Linked DNA regions of Homo sapiens: all the other regions are linked to region 2. The links come from fine-mapping of genetic effects on gene expression. A gene starts in region 2. Each other region holds a variant in brackets. All regions are shown on one strand. Distances are between the middles of the regions. Region 1 overlaps RYR1 (ryanodine receptor 1). Region 2 holds the start of RYR1 (ryanodine receptor 1). Region 3 overlaps RYR1 (ryanodine receptor 1). Region 4 overlaps RYR1 (ryanodine receptor 1).

What was found.
Region 1: its variant is fine-mapped to the expression of RYR1 in whole blood (TOPMed, PIP above 0.99). The same link has a PIP of 0.9 or more in blood mononuclear cells.
Region 3: its variant is fine-mapped to the expression of RYR1 in whole blood (INTERVAL, PIP above 0.99).
Region 4: its variant is fine-mapped to the expression of RYR1 in lung (TOPMed, PIP above 0.99).

What each region holds. Positions count from the first base shown.
Region 1 is chr19:38,545,039-38,550,184 of GRCh38, reverse strand. It overlaps RYR1 (ryanodine receptor 1), which reads right to left. Exons shown (of 106, transcript NM_000540.3): 88 at 3,659-3,740; 89 at 1,765-1,952. Among named protein-coding and RNA genes, the nearest start is that of MAP4K1-AS1, 49 kb to the left of the region's middle. The variant T/C (reference allele first, on the strand shown) is at 2,571.
Region 2 is chr19:38,430,639-38,435,784 of GRCh38, reverse strand. RYR1 (ryanodine receptor 1) reads right to left here and starts at 2,094. Exons shown (of 106, transcript NM_000540.3): 1 at 1,911-2,094. The coding sequence starts at 1,955. RefSeq lists an enhancer at 765-1,340 and a silencer at 2,072-2,211.
Region 3 is chr19:38,525,857-38,531,002 of GRCh38, reverse strand. RYR1 (ryanodine receptor 1) reads right to left here. Exons shown (of 106, transcript NM_000540.3): 72 at 3,951-4,010; 73 at 3,219-3,356; 74 at 2,585-2,697; 75 at 2,308-2,404; 76 at 1,946-2,052. Among named protein-coding and RNA genes, the nearest start is that of MAP4K1-AS1, 68 kb to the left of the region's middle. The variant G/C (reference allele first, on the strand shown) is at 2,915.
Region 4 is chr19:38,566,726-38,571,843 of GRCh38, reverse strand. RYR1 (ryanodine receptor 1) reads right to left here. Exons shown (of 106, transcript NM_000540.3): 92 at 4,857-4,933; 93 at 3,927-4,071; 94 at 1,151-1,237. Among named protein-coding and RNA genes, the nearest start is that of MAP4K1-AS1, 27 kb to the left of the region's middle. RefSeq lists an enhancer at 2,346-2,465 and a silencer at 2,328-2,528. The variant A/G (reference allele first, on the strand shown) is at 2,787.

The sequences.
Region 1 (5,146 bases), 110 kb before region 2:
TCTAGGATTAGATAGCAGCATTGTGCCAATGTTAATTTCCTGATTAGCATAATTGTCCTGTGCTTAGGTAGGAGAATGAATTTGTTCTCAGGAGATACACGCTGAAGTGTTTCAAAGTAAAGGGAAATTGGCTAGGCGAGGTGGTTCATGCTTGTAATCCCAGCACTTTGGGAGGCCGAGGCAGGCAGATCACTTGAGGCCAGGAGTTCAAGACCAGCCTGGCCAACATGGTGAAATCCCATCTCTACTAAAAATACAACACACACACACACACACACACACACACACACACACACACACACACACACAAATTTAGCTGGGCATGGTGGTGCGTGCCTGTAATCCCAGCTACTCAGGAGGCTGAGGCAGGAGAATCGCTTGAACCCAGGAGGCGGAGGTTGCACTGAGCTGAGATTGCACCACTGCACTCCAGCCTGGGCAACAAGAGCAAAACTCCGTCTCAAAAAAAAAAAAAAAAAAAAAAAAGGAAAGGAAAGGGAAATCATGATGGAGTAAATAGTAAATAGAAAACATTTGGGCAATGTGGGTGAAAGGTATTCAGAAATTCTATGTGCTGTTCTTGCAACGTCTCTATAAACCTGAAGTTATTTCAAAATAAAAAGTTAACAAAATGGTAACATTAAAGATCAGGGAGTAGTAATAGCAGCTAACATCTCTTGAGGACTCACCATATTCCAGGTACTGCCCGCACTGCCCATCCTCACAATAGTTAATAGTTGTTTTATTTTTATTTTTATAGATACAGGGTTTCACTAGGTTGCCCAGGCTGATCTCGAACTCTTGGGCTCAAGCGATCCTCCCACCTCGGCCTCCCAAATTGCTGGGATTATAGGCATGAACCACCGCACACTGCCAATAGTTAGTGGTTAATGTGATTATCCTATCCCCATTTTACAGAGTAGGAAACTGAGGCTCAGAAGAAAAGATGGAGAGTTAGGATGGGAGAGGTGGTTAGAGGAGGAGGAGTGGGTTTCTGAATAAGGATGTTCCAGCACTTCCCTCCTAGCAGGCTCATTATTTAGACTTGGAATGGTCTAGTTAGTGACTGCCTCCCCCATTAGACTATAAACCCATGAAAGCACGGGCTGTGTCTATCTTGGTCATTGATGCGTCAATAGTGTCACTACAGGCCCTACACAGAGAAGAAAGCCAGCCAATGTTTATTGATGGAATAACTGATGCCTATTCACAATAATGATAATGTTATGACTATCAATAAAGATAACAGTAATAACGGTTCTCATCTGTGTTAATGCATTTCATCCTCAAAATAACCCAAGGGGGCTGAGCGAGGTGGCTCATGCCTATAATCCCAGCACTTTGGGAGGCCAAGGTAGGAGAATTGTTGGAGCCCAAGAGTTCAAGAGGAGCCTGGGTAATGTAGTGAGACCACATCTCTACAAAAAATAAACTTAAAAATTAGCCAGGCATGATGTCACACACCCGTCGTCCCAACTACTCAGGAGGCTGAGGTGGGAGGATTGCTTAAGCCAGGAGGTCAAGGCTGCAGTGAGCTATGATCACGCCACTGCACTCCAGCCTGGGCAACAGAGAAAGACCTTGTCTCTAAAATGAAATAAAACAGAATACATATAACCCAAGGACTGTTTTATCCTCATTTTACAAACAAGGAAAGTGAGGCTTGCAGAGATGTCTCTTGCCTGAGGCAGCCAGCCAGAAGGGTATGGCTGGCCCTTGGCAACCCCACCCAAGTCCTGGGCCCACACGATGTCCCACACCCACCTTCTGGAAGTCCTTCTTGGAGATGAGGCCACGGGGATCCGTTACGTAGTCCTGGAAGGCTTCAGAGCCCACAATGTCCTTGAGTTTCAGGAACATGTCGAAGAACTTGAGGATCATCTCCACATTGGATGAGGATTCCACGAGCATGTCCACCATCTGCCGGGCGATCATGCCGTTCACCACGTTCCCTGCAGGCAGCCCCAGGTCAGTGTGGCCGGTGAACACTCCCTTCTGGGGCCCCACCAGGCTTGCCTCTCTTTCCAGCCCAGGAGCCACCACGCTGCTGGAGTGTCCCTGGCCAGCCACAGCCTCCCCTCCACAGGTCCCTTCCTGACCTGCGTCAGCCTCCTGTGCCAACCTGGCTGATCCTGCCTTTGCCCACCTCCCCCAGTAAAGCTAATGATGTCAGGTCGGACGTGGTGGCTCACGCCTGTAATCCCAGCACTTTGGGAGACCGAGGTGGGTGGATCACTTGAGGCCAGGAGTTTGAGACCAGCCTGGCCAACATGGTGAAACCCCGTCTCTATTAAAAATACAAAATCAGCTGGGCGTGGTGGCATGTGCTTGTATTTCCAGCTACTTGGGAGGCTGAGGCACGAGAATTGCTTGAACCTGGGAGGCGGAGGTTGCAGAGCCGAGATCGTGCCACTGCACTCCAGCCTGGGTGATGGAGTGAGACTCTGTCTCAAAAAAAAAAAAAAAGATAATGATGATGTACGCTAAAGGTAGGTGCCAAATGCTACCCTGGCACAATCACACAAAAAGGGAAGTGTGTGACTCTACTTTTAGGAAGAGAAACTGAGACA[T/C]AGAGAAAGTCATGCACTCAAAGTTACATAGCCAGTAAAGTGGGGAGAATGGATTTGAACTCAGAGCTGCATGACCTCAGGGCTTACACAACTAAAACTTCCACCAGTACACACAGTCAGGAGGGTCCACAGAAGACTGAGGCTAGCCAGTGGTAAGCAGCAAGGAGAGGTAGAGATTGGCAAACTGCGATCCCACACTCCCTCTAAAGGCAGCAGCTGAAGCTTGGCTCCAGTTTATTTTTGTAATTTTTAAATTTTAATGTAGGCTGGGCGCAGTGGCTCAAGTCTGTAATCCCAGCACTTTGGGAGGCTGAGGCGGGAGGATCACGAAGTCAGGAGATCCAGACCATCCTGACCAACATGGTGAAACCCCGTCTCTACTAAAAATACAAAAAAAAAAAAAAAAAAATTAGCCAGGTGTGGTGGCGGGCGCCTGTAGTCCCAGCTACCGGGGAGGCCAAGCAGGAGAATGGCGTGAACCTGGGAGGCGGAGCTTGCAGTGAGCCGAGATCGCGCCACCGCACCTCCAGCCTGAGCGGCAGAGCGAGACTCCGTCTCAGAAAAGAAAAAAAAAAAAAAGGGATCCTAATATATCCACATTCATCAATTGTTTATCTTTTGCCACATTTGGACATTTGGTTTGTTTTTGGGGTTTGTTTTTTTGAGACAGGGTCTTGCTCTGTCACCCAGGCTGGAGTGCAGTGGTGTGATCACAGCTCACTGCAGCCTGGACCTCCCGGGCTCTGGTGATCCTCCCACCTCAGCCTCCCGAGTAGCTGGGTCTACAGGCACACACCACCACACTAGGCTAATTTTTGTATTTTTAGTAGAGACAGGGTCTCACCATGTTGCCCAGGCTGGTCTCAAACTCCTGACTTCAGGTGATCTTCCCACCTCGGCCTCCCAAAGTGCTGGGATTACAGGTGTAGCCACCGCATCTGGCCTATTATGGCTTCTTCATCAACCCATGGATCCTGACACGATGTCAGATGGGGTTGAGGATTAGGGTCTCCCGGGTCTCAGGGGGCCATTCTCAGGCTTCTCTGAACCTCTTTACTGTTCCCTCACCCTCACTCCTGGGTGTTTACCTTCTAGTAGCGACAGCAACATCACCACCATGTCCTTCTGCAGATCCAGCAGCTCCTTCAGCAGCTCGATCTGGCTTGAGTCCTAGAGATCCCAGCTCGGTGAGGGCTGGTCTCAGCATACACCTCCCCCACCTCTGTTGCTTCTCCCCCTCCTCACCTACCCAGCAGGGCCTAAACCCGTTTTCTCCCCTCTTACCTCCGAGGGGACCCGAGTCCAGACATGTTCCTCGGAAGCAGGGGAAGGGGCAGAGAGACAAGATTGTGGGGGTGGGGTTGGCACTTGGGGGACGGGCTCGATAGGTGATGGGTAGTGGGAAGGCTGGCAGACAAGGAGGACTGAGAGGCTTGCGGGGCAGACATTTGGGGCAGAGAGAGACAGAGACAGACAGAGACAAACACTGGGGACAGAGACCCAGGTCTAGGAAGGGATGTGAGCCCAGCACTGTGCCTGGCCTACGGTGGGATTGACAGATGTATGTTGAATATAATGTGTGATGGCAAGAGTGGGACTCTGGGTTCAGGAGGAAGGCTGCAGAGACAGCCATGTGCTTTCTGGTAAGCCGTCTGCGGGGAACATAGGGCCACAGTGTAGGGCCCATAGAAACCTCCAATACAAAGTTTTGCCTCATGGCCCCTATTTATGTTAGGTTGAGTCACATAAAATTGCCAACATGTGATCACTTTTGGCTCACAAAGTGGTAATTTCTTTCTTTTTGAGACAGAGTTTTGCTCTTGTTGCCCAGGCCGGAATGTAATGGCGCAATCTCGGCTCACTGCAACTTCTGCCTCCCAGGTTCAAGCAATTCCCCTGCCTAAGCCTCTCGAGTAGCTGGATTACAGGCATGCGCCACCATACCCAGCTAATTTTTTACTTTTAACAGAGATGGGGTTTCTCCATGTTGGTGAGGCTGGTCTCGAACTCCTGACCTCAGGTGATCTGCCCGCCTAGGGCTCCCAGAGTGCTGGGATTACAGGTATGAGCCACCGTGCCAGATCCAAAGTGGTAATTTCATATGGTTCCACCAAATAAAATGGAGAGGGGAGGAGATGATACCAGATAAATGGGATGTAAGGATCTTTTGCTCCCATGCTAGTTCTATCAGTTGTTGATTCCAATCCTAATGTATTTCCACAGTTCCAAAGCTCTGCATTCTGCGCCTAAGGTCCCGACACTCCTAATCTCAAGATCTTACAGTGGGTGGGCGCCTGTGGTTTGTGCCTACCCATGATTCAGTCCCCCTCCTCTCTTTACAATCCCTCAATTTTCACCTGCGGAGTCCCCCATCCCACAGTCAGAGCACATGGGGCTAACCCTACCTCCTGGTTCTATAGGTGGGTATATGACCGGGCCTGGTCAGTCAAAGCTTTCTTTCCTAAGCCTATGATGATTGGTTCAGGGAGGGACATGTGACCCAATAGGCTAGTCAGAGAGAATCTCAGGTTTTTTTTTTTCTTGGAGCTTTCAGGAAAGAGGAGATCTCTTCCCTC
Region 2 (5,146 bases):
AGAATGTTTCTTATGGGCGGGATGTGGTCCAGAAGGTTTTTTGTTCTGAGATGGAGTCTCGCCCTGTCGCCCAGGCTGGAGTGTGCAGTGGCGCAATCTCGGCTCACTGCAACCTCTGCCTCCCAGGTTCAAGCAATCCTCCCACTTCAGCCTCCCGAGTAGCTAAGATTACAGGCATGCACCACCACGCCTGGCTAATATTTTTTTGTATTTTTAGTAGAGACGGGGTTTCACCATGTTGGCCAGGCTGGTCTCAAACTCCTGACCTCAAGTGATCCGCTCACCTTGGCCTCCCAAAGTGCTGAGATTACAGGCATGAGCCACTGAGCCCAGCCTCCAGAAAGTTTTGAGAAATCCACCACGACCTCAGTAACAATCAGAAAAACTGACCCAGTCTGGGGTGGAGAGATTCCAGGGCCAAGCCTCCAGAACCCTAACGCTGACTACTTTGGCAAGTCTGGGCCCAGATTTTCTCTGGTGAAGGCAATGGGGCTGGGCACCAGGGGCATCCAGAGATGCCACTTCCTGGCCTTGACCTTGGGTGAGTGATTCTACCATTCGGGCCTTGGTTTCCCTCAAATCTGTCAGGGAGATAAAGATAGGACCCTACCTCAGAAGACAGGGCAGCAAGGATATAATTAGATGTCTCAGGAGGCAGAGGCCCAGGGCACAGGGCCTGGTTTAGAGCGACAGCTCAAGAGCCAGTGGCCATGGCCATGGTCTTATTAGGGCTGGGGAGGGCCCGACCCATGGTGTCTGCTGAGGGGCTGGGGCTGGGGAGAGAGTCTCGGCTGAAGCTAGGCCCCTTCCCAGCTGTCCCCATCCTTCACTACCAGCCCCAGCTGTTTGTTCCTCTCTCCCAGGAAACCGGACCCGGCTCGCCAGGGTCCTATTCTGGGGCAGGAATGCTGTGTCAGCATTTCCTGTGTGGCTCCAGGGCCCCGGGGGGAGGGGCGGGGCTAGCGTCTGGTCAGCAGACCTAGCCCAGAGGAGAGGACGTCCCCTCCCATATTTACGACCCCACACCCTGCGGAGCCACTGGGAGGGGAAGATGGGAAGGACAAGGAGATGGCAGCCCCTCCTCCCTCTCATCCCCTCCCCATCCCCTGCCCAGGCCCCAGAAAAGCCGGCTATTCTGGGAGGGACACCTGTTGTTCCAATTCCCATCCCTGCCCCCAGCTGGGGCTCAGATGCAGGGAGTAACCCAGCTAGAGAGACAGCGAAAATCAGAGGGCCTTAAGCTAAGAAACAGAGACAGGGAGACTGAGATGGAGGAAGAGACAGAGACATGGAGACACCCAAAGAGACAGATGGGGAGAGACACCACCCAGAGACCCTGCAAGACCATTAGCAGCCATTGGGAGCAGCCCTCCTGCCCAAAACGAAGAAGGAAAGAAAGACCCAGAACCCAAGAGATCCCTCCCCCACAAGACCCTCAAGGGCTAGGAGTTGGAAGCAGCTGTGTCCTCCAGCTCACTCCAGCTCCCTTCTCAAGAATTTAAATAGGTCAGAGTCTGGAGCAAAAAGAGAATTAGGGCTAAGGTGGGGGTGGGGGGATGGCTAAATCAAGCCCAGGAATTAGAACCACCTTCCCCAAGTGCCTGCTTCCAAGATGGTGTGAGGGTGTGCTCCCTCGGGGGTCCTTCTTGTGGGGGACAAATCGCTAAAGTCAGAAGAGAGGGCAACCGAAGATCCCTTTCCCATTCTGGAGTCCCCAATCCTACTAATTCTCTGTAGTGAGAAAGGTGAAGGAGACTAAAAGACAGAGTGACAGTCACTCAAAGTGACATAGGAAGAGACCTCGAGTCTCAGAGACCACCAGCAAGCCGGACAGGGACATTCAGAGACAGAGAGACCCTCAGAGAGCCCCAAGAGATAGCCCCACAGGCCCCTAACCCAGAGATACGCACCGTCCGCAGGAACTGGACCTCGTCTTCGCCTTCTGCGTCACCCATGATGTCGAGGTCGGAAGCCCAGGGTCTGAGGTCGGGGAACAGAGGGAGGGGGCTGCGGGCTGGGCGGGAGGGCTGGGGGCGGGCTGGGGTCGGAGACCTCTGGAGACACCAGAGGCACCCGCGAGGTAGATGGAACTGCGAGGAGTACACGCATGCTGGACAGAGATGGGAGGAAGTCCCCGCCCCCGGGCCCCATTGGACCAGGACTCCCCGGCCACTCCCCTTCGCCGGAGCCCTGCCCACATACCCCAAATCTTGGCTGGAGGTTTGCTTGGCCGTTGGCCGCCGGAGGTGGGGTGGGAGAGAGAGTATCTAGGAGGTACCTGCGCTTTCTCCCCACCACGGTAAGTAACGTGCCATCATTCTCCCATTTCACAGAGGGCAGACTGAGGCTCTGAGTGGGGAAGTTCTTGCAAGATATCACGCAGCAGAGCAGGGATGTGCACCAGATCTCCTGACTTTAAAAAGCACCAAACATAGTGATTAAGAACAAGGACTCCGGCCGGGAGTGGTGGCTCACCCCTGTAATCTCAGCACTTTGGGACGCCGAGGTGGGTGGATCACTTGAGGTCAGGAGTTCGAGGCCAGCCTGGCCAACATGGTGAAACCCCCGTCTCTACTAAAAGTACAAAAATTAGCCAGGCGTGGTGACACATGCTTGTAATCCCAGCCACTTGGGAAACTGAGGCAGGAGAATTGCTTGAACTCCTTGAATTCGGGAGGCAGAAGCTGCAGTGAGCCGAGATTGAGCCACTGCACTCCAGCCTGGGCGAGACTTCGTCTGAAAAAAAAAAAAAAAAGAACAAGGACTCCGACTCCAAGCCAGATAATCTGGATCTGAATCCCACCCAGCCTTGCCACTTCCTTGAGTTACATGGATAAGCCACTTAGCTTCTCTGTGCCTCGGTTTCCCCATCCAGTAAGGGGAATATTAATAGTACCGACCTCACGTGGTTGTTGGGAGAGTTAAATGAGATAATTAATTAAATGAGATAAAACTTAAAACAGTGCCAGTGCCTGGTTAATGTAATGTAAGTGTTGCTATTATTATTATTTATTTATTTATTTATTTATTTTGAGACGGACTCTTGCTCTTGTTGCCCAGACTGGAGTGCAGTGGCAAGATCTTGACTCACTGCAACCTCCACCTCCCAGGTTCAAACGATTCTCCTCCTCAGCCTCCTGAGTAGCTGGGATTACAGGCACCTGCCAACACACCCGGCTAATTTTTGTATTTTTGGTAGAGACGGGGTTTCACCATGTTGGCCAGGCTGGTCTCGAACTCCTGACCTCATGATTCGCCCACCTCAGCCTCCCAAAGTGCTGGGATTACAGGTGTAAACCACCACGTCCAGCCCTATTAAAATTATTACTAGGCCAGACACAGTGGCTCATGCCTGTAATCCCAGCACGTTGGGAGGCCAAGGCAGACAGATCACTTGAAGCCAGGAATTTGAGACCAGCTTGGTCAACATGGTGAAACTCTGACTCTACTAAAAACACAGAAATTAGCTGGGCATGGTGTCACACGACTCTAATCCCAGCTACTTGGGAGGCTGAGGAACAAGAATCATTTAAGCCCAGGAGGCAGAGGTTGTAGTGAGCCGAGATTGTACCACTACACTCCAGCCCAGGTGACAGAGCAAGGCTCCACCTCAAAAAAAAAAAAAAAAATTTTTTTTATTAACATGTAGTGGTATACAGTAAGTTATATAAAACAATATCCCATAGTTAAACAAAATTACATAGAAACCGTTCTTCAAGGTATAGCAGGTTTCTAGGTGTTCCATAATTAAATACTGATGTTAACACAACTGCAATAAATAGCACAAAAGTTTGTGTCATATTATGGAATTATATAATTTGGCATTATATAATGTATAATTATATAATTATATATTTAGGCTAATATAATTATACAGTACAATACAATTCTATGTTGTATCTGTTATACATTATCCAACGCATAGTTGTATATTAAATATTGTTTTTCCCTAAAACTTTATGTAAATGTAAAATGATTCTGTGTCATTGAGCATTATATCATAAGATATTAATAGTGTTTCTTATTTTTGTCAGTCATCATTATGTGTTTTAAGACCTACCCTTGTTGCTCTGTGGACACCTGGTGTGTGACAGTGGTGGCTTTGCAGGATTCTCTGGTGACTGATCCCTTCTGTTTTTCCACCTACCCCTACTGGGAGCGGACACCCAGGCTGCCTCCAGCTCTCCCGAAATAATGCTGGAGGGAACATCTGTGTATTGGTCCCCCAGGAAGCTGAGGGAGAATGTTTTATTGTGCGTACCCAGAAGCTAATTGCTGGGTGACATATCCATGCGCACCATTTGTGTAAGTAGTGCTGGGTAGCCCTCGGAATGGCTACTCACTACCAGTGCATGAGGGTCCCCGGGTCCCCATATCCCCAACCCTCATGTGGCATTTCCAACTTAACTAATTTTTGCCAGATTTATATAGGGTGACTCACTGTTTTTTAATTTATTTTCTCTATTTTATTTTTAGAGATGAGATCTCACTTTGTTGCCCAGGCTGGGGTGCAGTGGCGCAATTATGGTTCACTGCTGCCCGGAACTCCTGGGCTCAAGGGATCCTCCCACCTCAACCTCCCGAGCAGCTGGGACAACAGGCTTGTGCCACCACGCCCAACTAACTTTTAAATTTTTTATAGAGGTGGGGTCTTACTATATTGCCCAGGCTGGTATTGAACTGCTGGTCTCAAGTGATCCTCCTACCTCAGCTTCCCAAAGTGTTAGGATTACAGGCAAGAGCCACCGCGCCTGGACTCGCTGTCATTTTAATTTCCACTTCCCTGATGAGTTACCAACAATTTCTAGCATCTTCTCAAGTGCCTATCAGAGTTTTGGGTTTCTTTGTTATCTGCTCATTGTGATCCCTGCTCACTTTTTTTTGTTTTTTTTTTTTGAGACAGAGTCTTGCTCTGTCGCCCAGGCTGGAGTTCAGTGGCACCATCTCGGCTCACTGCAACCTCCGCCTCCTGGGTTCAAGCAATTCTCCTGCCTCAGCACCCCCAGGACTACAGGCGCATACTGCCACACCTGGCTAATTTCTTTTGTATTTTAGTAGAGATCGGGTTTCACTGTGTTGCCCAGGCTGGTCTCGAACTCCTGAGCTCAGCCAATCCGCCTGCCTTGGCCTCCCAAAGTGCTAGGAT
Region 3 (5,146 bases), 95 kb before region 2:
AAAAAAAAAAAAAAAGAGAAAGAAAAAAGAAAAATAGCTGGGCATGGTGGCATGCACCTGTAATCCCAGCTACTCGGAAGGCTGAGGCAGGAGAATCGCTTGAACCCGGGAGGTGGAGATTGCAGCGAGCCGAGATTGCGCCATTGCACTCCAGCCTGGGCAACAAGAGCAAAACTCCGTCTCAAAAAAAAAAGAGAGAGAGACCAAAGATCTTGCTGAGGGTGAAGAGTGGGGACCCTTTGTCCTTCTTTCTGCCTGGCATGTGGCTGTGATGCCTAGAAGTGCAGCATCCACCCAGGACTACAGACAAAAGCTAAGAAGGGCAGAGCAGAAAGCTAGAAAGACCCTGGGCCCCTGTCAGTGTCCCTGTGCCACTGCCCAGTCCTGAAGTCTTTAGCTCTTGACTTCACGTTATGTAAGAAAAACAAATCCCTGACAGGCGCGGTGGCTCATGCCTGTAATCCCAACACTTTGGGAGGCTGAGTGGGGAGGATTGCTTGAGTTCAGGAGTTTGAGACCGGCCTGGGCAACATAGTGAGACCCCCATCTCTACCAGAAAAAAAAAAAAAAAATAGCCAGGCATGGAGGCACGTGCCTGTAGTCCCAGCTACTCAGGAGGTTGAGGCAGGAGGATCTCTTGAGCCTGGGGTGATGTGGAGTGGGGGGTCTGAGCTGCAATGAGCTATGATATGACACTGCATTCCAGCCTGGGCAAGAAGAGCAAGATCTTCTCAAAAAATAAAAAAGTAGGCCAGGTGCAGTGGCTCACGCCTGTAGTCCCAGCACTTTGAGAGGCCAAGGCGGGAAGATCACTTGAGGTCAGGAGTTTGAGACAAGCATGGCCAACATGGTGAAAGCCCGTCTCTACTAAAAATACAAAAATTAGCTGGGCGTAGTGGTGGGCGCCTGTAATCCCACTTGCTTGAACCTGGGAGGCGGAGGTTGCAGTGAGCTGAGATTGTGCCACTGCACTCCAGCCTGGGTGACAGAGCGAGACTCCATCTCAAAAATAAATAAATAAATAAATAAACAAAATGAAAAATAAATCCCTGTGCCTTCATTCCCTTATCCACACAAAGGAGATGCAATAATCCGTCTCACAGTGTGGCGGTTAAGTGAGAGGATATAGATATCCCCGCTTAGCTTGGTGCCTGACACATAATAAGCATTTGATGAATGGCTGCCTGCTACTGTCAGCAGCAGCGGCAGCAGCTGCGCCATCTGCATCACAATTATTTATTACTAAGCCTGTCATTAGCCTACATGAAGCTTTTGAGGGAATTACAGAAAACCTCCCCACTACTTCTGTCTGTTGGAAATTTGTCATACATATGGATTTTTTTCATAATATACTGATTTTATTTGAGCAAGACACTTTCTTCTAGAAAAGCCTAGTTAATCTACATTGTCTGTGATACGAACCCCTCAGACATGCCCTTGTGAAGTGTTCAGCCATGCAACGGTGTATGTTGGCTGTGCCTGTCCTAGCAAAGTGACATTTACGTTCCTTTTCTTTTCTTTTTGAGACAGAGTCTCGCTCTGTCGCCCAGGCTGGAGTGCAGTGGTATGATCTCGGCTCACTGCAACCTCCGCCTCCCAGGTTCAAGCGATTCTTCCGCCTCAGCCTCCTGAGTAGATGGGATTACAAGTGCCCACCACCAAGCCTGGCTATTTATTGTATTTTTGTAGAAACGGGGTTTTGCCATATTGGCCAGGCTGGTCTTGAACTCCTGGGCTCAAGTGATTGCCTGCCTCAGCCTCCCAGATTGCTGGGACTACAGGCGTGAGCCACCGTGCCTGACCAGCAAAGTGATATTTAAAGATCCGTCTGTCTTGGGCTCCCCCAGGACCTGGAGGGCCTCTCCTGAGGCACAGGGAAGCTGCTGGGCTGGGGGTGGCCCCAGGACCTTGGGGGCATTTCTGGGGCCCTGGCAAGAGTCTTCACCTCTTTTCCGTCAGGGCAGTGCGGCTGAAGTGCAGGACCAACTGGTGCAGGGGGTCTGGCTTCTTCTCTTCCACCTCTTCCTCCTCCTCCTCCTGCTCCCCAGCTTTCTGGTGGGAGAGGGGAGACTTGGGGAGAGGGTTTCTAGAGTCCCCTCCTGTCACTGCCCCCATGTCCCTGTTGGTCTGGATTTTTTTTTCTCTTTTCCCACATCCTGCGCCCTACTTTGGTTCTACTCAAGCCAGGAGCTGGCATTTCTATACCCCTTGATGTGGAGGGCCGACCCCTGGAGGTGTGCCAAGGGTGGCCTCCGCCCCAGCCCTATCCAGCTCGCCCCCCACTCCCCCAGGCGGGTCCCAGCTCACTGAAAGGTCATCTATCATGCGGTCCTCAAAACTGTGGTCTTCAGTCAGGATCCATGCAGCCTTGTAGCTCTCCAGGAACATGTTACATGCCCGGTGCCTGCAGGGGAGAGGTGTGACGTCACTGGGACGCGCCCTCCTCCGTGCTTCCCGACCTCCCATGCGCCTGCAGCCCCCAACCACCCTCAAGGCCCCATCACGTTGGCCCTCCATTCTCCAGACTCTCCAGCCACCCTTTCTCCGCAGCCCTTCACGCTTCCCTTGTCCCTGGGGGCCTTACGTGGGCAGGTTGTACAGGGGCGTCATACGGAAACAGGCCACGACTGCCCGCCGGCGCTGTTTGGACAAAAGCTTGTGCCACACGGCCTTCTTAGACTTGTAAGGGTGCTCGGTCTGGGGAGGGGATAGCAGGACAGTCACATCCCCAGACCCTGCCCCTCTCACTCCCAGCCCTGGATGAAACTGCCCAGCTGTGTCGAAGTCCATATTCAGGTTAAGACTCACACGGCAGAAGGAAAACCTTGTCTCCACCAACAGAGTCAGGGTCCTGACTCCGCCTCCAGACCTAAGTTTCCATCCTAGGCCAGGTCCCACAGAGCCAGGACCACGA[G/C]CCAGGCCACGACCAATTCTACGACCCACCCAAGGCCCTGCCCACAAACTCAACGCATCTCCTCTAGGCCCCACCCCTAGACCTAAAGATCTGCCCCTTCCCTGTCCCGCCCCCAGATGCAAGATTAAGCAGCAGACCCCTCCCCCGATCCATTCTAAGCCTCGCCTTAAACTCGAGGCTCCACCTCCTGCCCTGCCCCAAAACTTAATAGTCATCTCCAGACCCCACCCACATCCTTGAAGCCCCTCCCCCCGCCAGGCTCCGCCCAGAGACCCAGTAGAAAGACCCCTCCGGCCCCACCCACCTGGTCCAGGTAGTAGAGCACGGCTGACACTTCCTGGACTCTGCGCACGATTTTCTCGGGGTCATCGGCGTCCTCCTCGCGACCCGGGACGCCCCGGTACAGAGCCATCTGCCAGCGCAGAGACGGGGAGCCTTCGACCTGAAGGGAGGAAGAAGGAGTGGCCGGCGTGAGGGACCCTTCCCACAGTGTCCGCCGGATGTCCCCTTTCCGTTTTTGGGAGGACTCAATGGGTGAGTGCATGTTGAGGCCTTTCTTCTTCTTCATCTTTTTGTTTTGAGACGGAGCCTCGCCCCATCACCCAGGCTGGAGTGCAGTGGTGCGATCTCAGCTCACTGCAACCTCTGCCTCCTGGGCTCAAGCGATTCTCCTGCTTCAGCCTCCTGAGTAGCCGGGACTACAGGCACCCGCCATCACACCCAGCTAATTTTGTACTTTTAGTAGAGACGGGGTTTCACCACGTTGGCCAGGCTGGTCTCGAACTCCTAACCTCAGGTGATCTGCCCGCCTTGGCCTTCCAAAGTGTTGGGATTACAGGCATGAGCCATTGTGCCCGGCCTAATTGTTGTATTTTTAGTAGAAACATGGTTTCGCCACATTGGCCAGGCTGGTCTCAAACTCCTGACCTTTGAGGTCTTTCTTCAATGCCTGGTCTTTGGTAAATGCTCAAACCTTCACTAATATTGTGGTTACTTTCTGACTTGCTTCTTTTGCTTGCAGAGGAAGGAGGCATACCTTTCCCTGAAGGTGAAGGTTGTTGTGCAGAAATTCCCGGACCTCCTCATCTGTGTCTTTCTGGGGAGACAGAGCCAGGCTGGGTCACTCTGGAGGTCCCATCCTCCTTCCTGACCCACAACCCTTTCCTTCCAGGCCCAGCACCCCAGGAACTGAAGAGGTTTTTCTGGGGTGGGGGTGGGGGTCTGAGAGAAACAAAAGGATGCAGAGGTTGACGGGGTCAGAAGGGGTCCTAGAGGGGCCGGAGGGTCACAGAGTCACCTTGAAGATACAGTAAGGATTCGAGGGGCCTCGTGGAGGTCTGGGAAGAGGCAAAGGGTGACAAGAGGATCTCATCAAAGGTCAAATATGGCCAAAGAGGGATGACTGGGGGGTCAGAGTGGGGCAGGGAGTCTTTGAAGATCAGAAGGGGTCAGCAGAGGTCATGGGGGATCACGTAGGTCAACGGAGTCACTGGTTACACAGGGGCCAAAGGGGGCATCAGCAGGGTGGGGGTTCACTGGGGTTCTAGGACGGGGAGCCCTCAAGGACCAAGGTGAGGGGTCCATGGAGCCCTGGAGGGCTCTCTGGCGTCCTGGCAGGACTCAGCAGTCCTGGGAGGTGCCTGAGGTTCTGAGGGAAGGGGTGTCCTGGTGGTAGCAGGGGAGAAGTCGGTGGTCTTTAGGGGTCCAGGGGGTTAGTAGGTTGTCAGGGTGTTGGTGTGGTCCTGGGGGGAGGGCTATAGGGGTCTTGGGGCAGAATCCTGGGAGGGTTCCTTAGAGTCCCTGAAGCTGGAAAGGATCGGAGAGGAGGGAGATTGTCCTTGTTGTCCCACACAAGGGGTAAGTGGGGTCCCGGGAGGCCTCCTTGATATCCCAGCAAGCTTAAGAGGTTCTACAGCCCGGGTATTTTGGTCTCCAGGACAGTTGAGACCTCAGAGGTTTGGGTACAGTCCCGGGCTTGGGGTTCATGGATCCTGGGGAGTTATGCAGGGTCGCAGGGCTCCCTGAGCCCCTGAGAGTCTTGGGGGCTTAGTTGGGCTTCAACAGGGCCCAGGTGTCAGCAGGGTCCTGAAGGAAAGGGATGGTGAGCCAAGGGCTCAGCAGGAACCCAGAGGTTCAGTCTTGGCAGGGAGGGAAGGAGGGGTCATGAGGGTCTCAGTAGGTCCCAAGGGGCTTGAAGGGGCCTTGGTGGAGGGTTCAGAGGATCTCAGGGGC
Region 4 (5,118 bases), 140 kb before region 2:
TGGGAATTAGCCTATTGAACTGAGTGGCACAGAACTGAAGACAGAGTTGGTTCATCTTGATAGTGGAGCCCTAAAGAGACTGCCCACTAATATTAACACTAACATGAAAATTAGTAGCAGCTAAACATTTACACAGTGCTTTTTATATGCCAGGTACTGTTGCTCTAACTGCCTTACACACACTCATCCTCTTTTTTTTGGTGGGGTGGACGGAGTTTCACTCTTGTCACCTAGGCTGGAGTGTAGTGGTGCAATCTCGGCTCACTGCAACCTTTGCCTCCTGGGTTCAAGGGATTCTACTGCCTCAGCCTCCTGCATAGCTTGGATTACAGGTGCCCGCCACCAGGCCTGGCTAATTTTTTTTTGTATTTTTAGTAGAGACGGGGTTTCACCATGTGGCCAGGCTGGTCTTGAATTCCGGACTTCAGGTAATCCACCTACCTCGGCCTCCCAAAGTGCTGGGATTACAGGCGTGAGCCACTGTGCCTGGTGCCTTATCCTCTTTCAATCCCCACAGCTCTAAGAGGTATTCCATTTTACAGATGAGGGAGTTGAGGCACAGGGATGGTAAGCACCTTGCCTATCGTCATGCGCCAGTGGGCAGTCCCACTGTGGGACTTCTGGGTCCCACAGAAGCCATGCTTCGATCTCTCTAGTCTACCTTACTGTCCTGTTATCTAGACCCCTGGCAAGACCCCAAGGGTCCCTTTGTCCTTCAGGAGGCCTGGTTCTTAACCCATTCCTTCCATTCTGTGAGTGGCCCATTTCTTCCTCCCTGCAAACTTCTGTTTAGCTTATGTGAAACCAAAGATGCTTAACAGAATCAGTGGGTGTTGCCAAGAGCTGAGGGCCTGCACCCAGGCGCACAGGACTGGCATGTGGCCGAGCTGAGCAGAGAACTCAGCTCCTGCTCCTGCTCTAACTCCCACAGACACTCAGGCTTCTGTCCCAGATGGATCCAGATATCCCCTACTCACCCCCATGGAGGGGGGTCCCAGGATCCAGGTGTCCAGCCTGAACCCTCCTAACGACCCAAAGCCCAATACCTTATCCCTTCAGTGGAGGAACCCTGAAATTCTGATAGGGGCTGAGCCTCCCATCCCACAGCATGGAAAAGGGCCTGACCCTCCCAGCCCTTCAGGACCAGCACCTTATAAAACAGCAAGATGAAGTTGATGGCAAATGCCAAGAAGAGGGCAAGGAACCGCAGGGTGTAAAAGTTCCGGGACAGGTAGTTCTGAGAGAGAAGAGAAAAAGAGAGAAAGCGCTCACAGATCAGCCTCTTCCCTGGAGAATTCATCCCATCATTTACCTGCAATCAAAGTACCTGGGCTCTCAATATCTTTCCTACAACCTCCTATTTATTTATTAATTATTATTATTATTATTTTTGAGACAGAGTCTTGCTCTGTCGTCCAGGCTGGAGTGCAGTGGTGCGATCTTGGCTCACTGCAACCTCTGCCGCCCGGGTTCAAGCAATTCCTCTGCTGCCGCCTCCCGAGTAGCTGGGACTACAGGCGTGTGCCACCACGCCCAGCTAATTTGTGTATTTTTAGTAGAGACAGGGTTTCACCATATTGGCCAGGCTGATCTCAAACTCCTGACCTCGTGATCCGCCCTCCTCAGCCTAAGTGCTGGGATTACAGGCTTGAGCCACCACGTCCAGCCTATTTATTTATTTTTGAGACAAGGTCTCACTCTGTCACCCAGGCTCGAATGCAGTGGCGCCATCTCGGCTCACTGCAACCTCTGCCTACCGGGTTCAAATTCTCATGACTCAGCCTCCTAAGTAGCTGGGATTACAGGTATGCACCACCACACTCAGTTAGTTTTTGTATTTTCAGTAGAGACGGGGTCTCACCATGTTGGTCAGGCTGGTCTCAAACTCCTGACCTCAGGTGATCCACCCACCTCAGCCTCCCAAAGTGCTAGGATTATAGGTGTGAGCCACCTCGGCTGGCCTCAACCTCCTATTTGTTGAGTGCTTGCTTATACCAACATCTGGGCTAAGAACTTTATTTGCATGAGCTTGTTTAATTCTCAGTACACCCCTGTGAAGTGGGCACTACTGTTATGCGCACTTTACAGATGAGGAAACTGAGGCTCAGGGAAGTGGTGTCTTGCTCAAGGTAACATAACCAACGAGTGGCAGAGATGGGATTTGAACCCGGGCAGTCAGCCTCCAGAGTCCAAGCTCCAAGCCACTTGGCCATGCTGCTTCCTGAGTGAGGTCACCCCACCTGTCGCCCTGCCTGCTTTACAGAAGATGAAAGGGAATTTTTTTTTTTTTTGAGTCAAGGTCTTACTCTCACCCAGGTTGGAGTGAAGTGACACAACCATAGCTCACTGCTGCCTCAACCTCCTGTGCTTAAGTGATCCTCCCGCCTCAGCCTCCTGAACAGCTGGGACCACAGGCATGTGTCACCTCACCCAGCTAATTAAAAAAACATTTTTGGCTACTCTGGGTGCACTGCCTAGAGGGTAGCCCTGCTCTGCAAGGAGCAGTAATTAAAAAAAAAAAAAGATTAAAAATATTCGGCCAGGTGCAGTGGCTCACGCCTGTAATCCCAGCACTTTGGGAGGCCAAGGCGGGTGGATCACAAGGTCAGATCTAGGCCATTCTGGCTAACACGGTGAAACCCCGTTTCTACTAAAAATACAAAAAATTAGCCAGGCGTGGCGGCGGGCGCCTGTAGTCCTAGCTACTCGGGAGGCTGAGGCAGGAGAATGGCGTGAACCCAGGAGTCAGAGCTTGCAGTGAGCCGAGATTGTGCCACTGCACTCCA[A/G]CCTGGGCAACAGAGCGAGACTCCGTCTCAAAAAAAAAAAAAATTCTTTTGTAGAGACAGGGATCTCCCTATGTTGCCCTGGCTTGCCCCAAACTCCTGGGCTCCAGTGATCCTCCTACCTTGGACTTCCAAAGTACTGGACTTACAGGCATGAGCCCCCTCGCACGGCCAGGAACATCTTCCATCTCTCCCTCTTTCTCTCCACCTTTCCCTCCATCCCTCATTCTTCCCACAAATTCTGACGGAACCACCTTCGTTCCACATGATTCCCTCACCGCCCCCCCGCCCCCCACCACCACTTTGTTTGAGGCAGAGTCTCACTCTGTCGCCCAGGCTGGAGTGCAGTGGCACGATCTCGGCTCACTGAAACTTCTGCCTCTTGGGTTCAAGCGATTCTCATGCCTCAGCATCCTGAGTAGCTGGAATTGCAGGCATGCACCACTATGGCTGGCTAATTTTTTTTTTTTTTTTTTTTTGTATTTTTAGTAGAGATGGGGTTTCACCATGTTGGCCAGTCTGGTCTTGAACTCCTGACCTCAGGCGATCCGCCTGCCTCGGCCTCCCAAGGTGCTGGGATTACAGGTGTGACCCACCGTGCCCAGCCTCCCTCACCCCCTCCTATCGGGCCAGGCCTGGAGGGGAGACAGGATGGAGGGAACCCTGGGACCTGCCTCCCAACACCCACCCTTCTTCCTGGCCTGGATGAGATGAACGCTTCCCCAGGAATTGGGAGAGCTCAGACCTCCACAGCAGCACTGGGAGTGGTGGAGGGACTGAGACTGTAAGGGCTGACAGCCAAGAACAGGCCACGGTGGGAAGGCCAGAGTGGTGGCCTCACTGAATGTAGCTCTGGACAGAGGATGGAGGTGGAAGTGTGGGTGGGTGGCCCCGATGAACAGAGGTATGGAGGTTGGAATAAGGATAGTGAGCAGGGAAGGGACAAGGAACCAAGTGAGGGCCATCTGAAAATGCTACCCTGTCCGCAGGTCTGGGGATACCTCTGCCCTTTCCCCAGCTAGGGTTCTTCTTAGAGACGAGCTTGAACAGATGAACTCAAGAACAAGGTGAGCAGGAGAGGTGGGCACCAGAGGTGGGGCTCCCGGGGAGAAGAAGGTTCAGGTGACCTGGCTGGATCCTTACCAGGAACTTCACCCTCTGCACCTCCAGTTCTCCCCAGAATTCGCCTCCAGCTTCCTCCTTCTTTGGAGGGGGTGAGGGAGGTGCTTGCTTCTTGGGGGGCTCTGGTGTGGGCTCGGGAACTTCTTCCTTCTCCCCATTCTCGGCACTGCAGGGCAGGACAGAGAGAGGTCAGGAGGTGCCTGGGCAGGCAATGCATGAGTTCATTCATTCAAAACCATTCACCAAGGGCCCGCCCTGTGCCTGGCCCAGGTTTGGATGGTACTGGGTACATGGGATGATGAGATAATCAGGACTTGCCCTTATGGGGCTCCAGTCCAATGTGGGAGACAGGCAGTGACAGTGACACCAGGCAGTGACAGCCCAGAGTGGTCGGGGCTGGGATGGAGGAAGCTCAGGGGGTTGTGGGAATCTGGAGGAGACACCTCCTCAACTTAGGAGGGGGTCAGGTGTCCTGGAGAATTGGAAAGGATGAGAAAGACTCAGAGTAGGCATGGGGGCCTGTGTTCCAGGCAGCGGGAAAGCACATGCGAAGGCCTGGCAGTTAGATGGGAGTTTTCATTTTTCTATCTCTCCATATTTTTTTTTCTTTTTCGACACAGGGTCTTGCTCTGTCACCCAGGCTGGAGGGCAATGCTGCGATCAGGGCTCACTGCAGCCTCCACCTCCAGGGGTCAAGTGATCCTCCCACCTCAGCCTCCCCACACACCACCATGCTTGGCTAATTTTAATTTTTTTTTTATGTTGCCCAGGTTGGAGCATTTATTTCTTGATTCTTTTACTCAGAGCCCCTCCTCCGTGCCTGAGTCTGGGCTGGGTGATGCCGAGGACACAGGGTGGCCAGGACAGCCTTGGGGCCTGACCTCTGGAGGCTCCTACTCTAGGAGGGAGGCAGTGATAGGGGCTAGGCCCCTCAGCCCCAAGGCCACTCACTCGGCTTTCTCCGGCTCCAGCTCTGGTTCCGGCTCGGGCTCTGGCTCTGGCGGGAGCTCCTCCTCCACTCCATCCACCTAGGGACAGGGCAAGCATCAGGGCTGAGTCCTCACCCTAAGCGCTTCTCAGGCTGCCTGCCTGCTCCTCTCATCTCCTTTCTCTCTTATTTCCCCTGGGTAATCTAAGTTTTACACTTCCCTCCACCAGAAAGAGGCAGATTATGATTCCCGTTTTACAGAGGGGAAACTGAGGCTCATCGAGG